2 linked regions of the Homo sapiens genome follow. The protein of the gene in region 2 purifies or fractionates together with the protein of the main gene of each other region. This does not show direct contact. Each region holds a gene or a part of one and is shown on either strand. Other genes may lie near its edges.

Evidence for each region.
Region 1: the proteins of CCDC146 (region 2) and RAB3IP purify together in Homo sapiens (affinity purification with mass spectrometry; 3 studies listed by BioGRID and IntAct, with this or other methods). This does not show direct contact.

Annotation. Positions count from the first base shown.
Region 1 is NC_000012.12:69,821,162-69,823,911, reverse strand, and holds the end of RAB3IP (rab-3A-interacting protein isoform alpha 1), read right to left. Parts: 3' UTR 713-2,750; downstream 1-712. UniProt on the Homo sapiens protein: Guanine nucleotide exchange factor (GEF) which may activate RAB8A and RAB8B. Promotes the exchange of GDP to GTP, converting inactive GDP-bound Rab proteins into their active GTP-bound form.
Region 2 is NC_000007.14:77,125,433-77,129,262, reverse strand, and holds part of CCDC146 (coiled-coil domain-containing protein 146), read right to left. Parts: intron 2,758-3,830; exon of another isoform or gene 2,491-2,757; intron 758-2,490; exon of another isoform or gene 537-757; intron 1-536. UniProt on the Homo sapiens protein: Essential for sperm flagellum biogenesis and male fertility.

The sequences.
Region 1 (2,750 bases), on a different chromosome or scaffold from region 2:
TATGTGTCCCAACAATAAGGACATTTTCACATGTAATTGCAATATCATCATTATACCAAAGAAATGTAATATTATCATCTCATATGTAATTTCTTCCAGTCTCCAAAATATTTTTTATGGCTTTTGATTTCTGATTAAGGATCCAATGGATTTCCATGCACTGCCTTTGGTTATGTCTTTTTAAACTATAGAACAGTCCCCTTGTCATTTTGATTTGTGCTCTTCATGATTTTGACTTTTTTCTATAGTCCAGGCTCATTGCCTTGTAGAATACCCATTTTCCAAATTTGTCTATTGTTTCATTATTAGAATTGTAGGTGACATAATTCCAAACATATTTTACACACATATACTGTTACTTGAAAATGAGCAAACTAAGTTTAGCTTAGAAAAGAAAAGGTTTAGGAGCTTCTTTTGACGGTCACACTGGCTGTCAGATCTATAAGGACAAGTCATCAAGTTGTTTAAAGAAATGAATTTTCAACAATTGTGTGAAGCTATCTGCTGGGTGCAGGAAATAAAAAAATGAATAAATAATAGTCCCTGCCCTCCATAAACTGAAATCTAGGGCATGAGAAAAACACAAGTGACTGTAACTCAGGGCAGACTGATAGCTGGGAAAATGTCTCAAGAGAACAGAGAAAGGACAGTAATTTAATCTGGGAGGATCTGGAAAGGTGCCACAAAGAGCTAGGATGTAGATACACTTAAACAGTGGGTGGGTCTTTTTTTTATTTTTTTAATTAACAAATAATAATTGCCCATATTCATGGGGTACACAATGATATTTCCATACATATAATGTGTAGTGATCAGATCAGGGTAATTAGCATATCCATCATCTCAAACACTTATCATTTCTTTATGTTGGAAACATTCAACAACTTCCTTCCAGCTATTAGCTATTTGAAACTACACATTATTGTTAACTACAGTCATCCTACAGTGGTACAGGATATATTAAACAATAAGTATATTTCTTAAAACATGAGCAATGGCTTGGAAGACAGCACAGGTACAGAGATTGTGTGCCTAGTATGGTGCGAGAGGAGATAGGAAAATAGGCTGAAGAAAGATGGTGGTAGTTTATTTCCAATTTTTATGGATACATAATAGTTGTACATATTTATGGGGTACATATGATATTTTGATACAAACATACAACGTATAATGATCAAATCAGGGTAATTGGGGTATCCATCACCTCAAACATTTATCATTTGTGTTGAGAACATTCCAAATCCACTCCTTTATTGTGAAATATACAATAAATTATTAACTGTATTTACCCTATTGTGCTACCAAACAACAGATCATATTCCTTCTATAGATTTTTACACCCATTACCCAACCCCTTTATCCTCCCACCCCCCAACCCCCATTACCCTTCCCAGCCTCTGCTATCCTGTTGTATTCACTACCTATAGTGGTAGATTCTGAATGTAATTTGATTCCATGCATATTCATTCTAAGTGTATCTATTGACAGTTTCTATCTGCTTGGGTGTGGGGCATGATACAATCCCATTTAACTCAGAGAGATCTCTGTGGCAGAATGTGTTGGCTGGGGCAATATCCAAAGTTTAAGCAGTTTAAGAAGCTACTGCAAAATCCAGGTAGGCTGTAGTAAAGCCTGAAGCACGCGATGTAAAACAAAGCAATGGTTACTGGCTGGATGTAGGGAGCAAGGATGAAGTCAAATGATTTTTTTTAAGGATTTATATGCCTTTAGATAAAATATGAATTAAGATGCCTAAAACATGTAGCCTCTGGCTAACCCTAGACTCCAAGAGAAGCTCCCAGCCAAGTCTCCTGGAGACCACCGGAAATGAGTCATCACACTATAATCCACTGCCAAGTAATGATTCTGGATCCCGTCCACCAATTCACCCACAGACTTCATGTTCTCAGCAGCACAGTGATGTGACAGGAAGCATCATAGAAATGAGATTTCATTTAATGGCCTGAGAAGCTAAGGTTAGAATTGGGGTTCCGAACTGAAATACTTCCAAGGCCCAGCAGATAAGTGAGTAAAGTGGGTCCCTTAGCCTTGGTGTCAGGGAGACAATCCAGGATGGTGGGCCATAGAGCAAACCATGGAGTGCATACCCTGAGCAAGGGTGTAGCCACCCGACAGGTGGAGTCACTCAGCTCCACCCAAGTGTTGTCATTCAAGACTGTGGGCTCAGTGTTGTCGAAACGGCACATTTTAAAAAAGAGCAGCTTGAAATGCAGATTTTAGATTTCCTCATTTTTAAATGCTGGCAATTGTTCAAAAACAAGATGGACAAACAGAAAAATAAACCAAAACACTGTGAAGGACAAATAGCACATTGTGTGAAAACACAATGGAGCCCACAAGATGCAACCCTGGTGCCGAGATCTGCGGAAAGTGAAGAGAATTGAGAAGGAAGTTGCTGGGAGGACTAGAAAATCTCTATTAATCAGAATCCAGAGCACTCCACTGAGAGCACAATCCAGCTGCTGGAAATAGGATTTAAGTGGAAATTCCTCCCTCTCAGTGAATAACAAATATGATGCGTATTTTCCTGATTATGGTCTTTACGTCTTACATTTTCCAACTCTCTTGATATCCCCATTTTGCAGAGTTTCGGTAGAGAATCATTCTCTTGAATAGTAATCTAATCTAGTTGTGATTTGGGTTTGCTTTGGTATTGACATTTCCTAGAGAGCTCCAACAGATACAGATAAAAGCTGAGCTGCTGCGGTTAAATCTGGGGATGTGGTGAT
Region 2 (3,830 bases):
TACTGAGTGACAATTGGGTGGGTAGGGTAGACAGTGTGGATATGCTGCACAAAGGATGGAGTGAGACAGTGCAAGATTTCATCATGTTCTCAGAACTGTGTGCAATTTAAAATTTACAAGTTATTTCCAGAATTTTCCATTTAATATTTTCAGACTGCAGTTCATCATGGGAAACTGAAACCTCAGAAAGCAAAGCCAAAGATAAGAGGGGCCTACTGTACTCCATGTTTGTGCAGGAGTAGGGCTGACCCTGTTACTTACGTAGTTTCAAACATAGAATTAGGATCACCTTCTCTAGTTCTCTTCTACATGGGATTTCGGCTACACTTTACAGTTTTTGTGGGCCCCTTTTGTTATGGCCAAAAGGATCAGGCTGTCTTAAAGATTTTGCCTTATGCTGCCATTCACTTCTAAGTACTTGGGGCTGCCCTCGAGGTAAAATATCAAGAAAAAGAGAGAAAGAGTATCGGGATTCCCCCACACACTCTCTTTCCAGTTCCTCTATTCAGAGAGACAGTGTTCTCTTTTATTCTTAGGAAACCTCACAGCCTGGCAGTGGCAGTGCAAATCTATGTTTGGAGCTGGCTTTGTGGCAGGGCCAGCAGACCAAAACGGAAAGAAAAAAATCGGGATTTCCCTACAATTTCTGTGTGGCAGGAGCCCCTTTTCTTCTACACAGTTCTCAATTCAGCCTGCTTTTAAGTGAAAGCCAGAAGATAAAGGAGGAAAAAAGAAACAAGGAAACTGAAACTTATTGGTATGTCTTATTTCTTAAACTGGGTGTTAGGCATAAAGATGTTCTTTTTACTATTATTCTTTAGACTTTATTCATACTTTATTCTTTTGTATGAATGAATTACTTTGCACAGAAGGAAATGAAGCAAAAATAAAAGGAAATAAAAATCGAAAACCTGGCCCATGACCATGGAAATTGGTCGAGTTCTGACTGAAGCAAATCCAAAATTGTTCTACAGGGAACAAGAAAAATTTTATTGTAATCTAGAATGTAAAGGATTTTCAGAAAAGAGAACTCCCGCTGAAGATGAGCTATAAATAAAAATTTATAAGCCATGACAAGAAATAAACCACCATGAAACAGAGTTTGTTTATGTAGCAAAAGAGAAACAGCAACCTCATAACAGAACAGACTAGAATAATTTTGCATCAGTATGTTTAAAATAATTAAAAAGGCAAGAGAAGGTAAAGAAACCACAGTAAAATAAACGGAGCAGTTTAAAATAAGAGAAAATAGATTTTTTAAAGAACCAAATAAATATTCTAGAAATGATAATATAGTCATTGGGATGAAAAATTCAATGCAGATATTAAACAATGGATTAGCAAAGATTGGGAAGGAATTAATGAATTAGAACATAGATTTGAGGAAATCATCCAGAATGAAATACGAAAAGATGAAGAGGCATAAATCATATAAACACAGTTAAGGGATATGGATGACAGAATGAGAAATTAAAATACATGTCTAAATGAGAGCTCCAAAAGTAAAGAATAGAAAGAGCAAGGAAACGCTGAAGGTTTATAAATTGGAGACTTTAGACAAAGAAAGCGTATTGACTTCTGAGCAGGACAAATAAAACTAAACCATATTAACAATATTCTAACAATCTTCCATAAAATAAAAGAGGCAACATTTGCCCTTCTAATTTTACCCTAATATCAAAACCAGAAAAAGACATGAAAGAATACTTTGGACCAATATCCTTCATGAAAATAAAATGTAAAAATCCTCACAAATTTAGCAAGTTGAATCTAGCAATTTATAGAAAAGATAATGATGGCAGTGGCTGGTGCCATCACGCTGGCTGCAGTAGGGAGGAAAGGCTGAGACTGCAGACCCAGGCCTCCCACTCCATGGGGCAGTCAGGAGCCCCACCCTCCTGGACGGTGCTACAGCCGCCCAAACTGCAGCTGTAGATCTGAGCCTCCCTGCGCTCTTGAAGTGGGGCTGGGAACAGGCAGGATCTGCCCTCTTGGGTGCAGCTGCAGCCGCCTGACCAGCAGCTGCTGACCTGGGCCTCCCACAACATGGAGCAGGCAGGAGCTGGGGAATCCCGCCCCTGCTGAGTTGGCCTGCGGGAGCTCCCTGGGTGCAGCTGCCACTGCCCTCTCACCCACGGGACCCAGGCATCTCTGCAGCCTGTACCCTCTGGTGCCCCGGAAGGCCCCCCATCCCTGCAGGCTTGGGGTGTCTGCTCCCGCTGCCTGACCTCTCTCCTCTCCTGGAGCTGGCTCAGATCTTGGAGTGGGGTTGGGGTTGAGCCCTGGGGCCATGAATGGCAGCGGGAGGCAGACAGATTCTTGGGTGGAAGGGGGCAGGTCCCCAGTAAGGCTCTACCTTCAGTCCAGGGAGGGCCTGAAGGCTGGGGGCCAACTGCTGGTCCTGCATACCAGTTTGGGGACTCATGGGGCCTCTTCCAGCAGCCCATGGCTGCCCATGGACCAATCAGCATGCACTTCCTCCCCTCTGAGGTCCATAAAAGCCCTGGGCTCAGCCAGAGCAGGGCAGACGATGGCCAAAGGACGAAGAGGATAGACAGACTACACAAGGACCAGCTGCAGAAAGGAGCTACCGTCTCTGCCGAGAGCTTCAGAGACAACCTGCCAGCAGACAGGAGGCACCCTCTCCAGGGCCTCCTCTCCACTGAGAGCTGCAGACATTGGGACAACCAGTAGTAGAGAGGAGCTACCCTCTCCAGGGCCACCTCTCTAATGAGAACTGAATGCTGGACAGATGATCTTCCTACAGAGAGGAGCTACCCACTGTGGGTCTCCTCTGAGCTCTTGTAACACTTAATAAAGCTCATCTTCGTCTCGTTCACCCTTCACTTGTCTGCGTACCTCATTCTTCCTGGATGCAGGACAAGAATTCGGGCAAAGGTGCTGTGGCCACAGAGGTTTCTGGCCAGGAAATTGACAACCCAAAACTCCCTGACAATAACATGATGAAATGTAGCTTATTGAGGGAATGAAACACTTGAAAATCAATCACTGTAATACACATATCAATAAATCAGAAGAAAAACAATATGATCATCTTCATAGATACAGAAAAAGCATTTGACAAAATGCAACATTCACTTATGATAAAAAGTCTAAGCAAATTAGAAAGTAAACTTCCTTAACTTGCTAAAGGGCATCTTTAAAAATCTACTGCTAACTTCCTAATTGTTGTTGAAATTTCCCTCATAAATAGGAAATAAATCAAGGATTTTTGCTTTTGCCACTCCAACTCAATATTGTAGTGGCGGTCTTAGCCAGTGCAATAACACTAGGAAAGAAAAGCCATACAGATGAGAAAGGAAGAAATAAAACTGTCTATTTGCAGTTTCACATAGAGATTTCAAATAGAATTAGTACCTATATATATTCATTAAATACTTCTCAATGTTGATAGTTATTAGTTAAGATTGTTGAGTTTATTAATATTTCATAAGAATAATAGAAGTCATAAGATATATCTCTTTTTAAATAGTTTATAATTCAGAAAGTTAAATTCTTATGGCTTTTCTCTTAAGCTAAATTGCTGAATTCTTTGTTTTGGTTACCTTTTCTTCTGAAAACTCTCTTATGACCTCTGCTGTCCATTTATTGAACATAAATCATTAAATAAAATATTCGTTGACATTTATATCTAGATGGTAAGAAATCTTCTGCCCATCTGATTATTTGAGTCAGTTTTAGGAAACAATATATGCTAAGAAATGCTTTAAAATTGTTTTCTTATAAATGTAATATATTTTCACTATTGATAACACACAAAAAATTGCAGTAACCACTCATCATATCACTGCTTAAAGATAACAACTGTT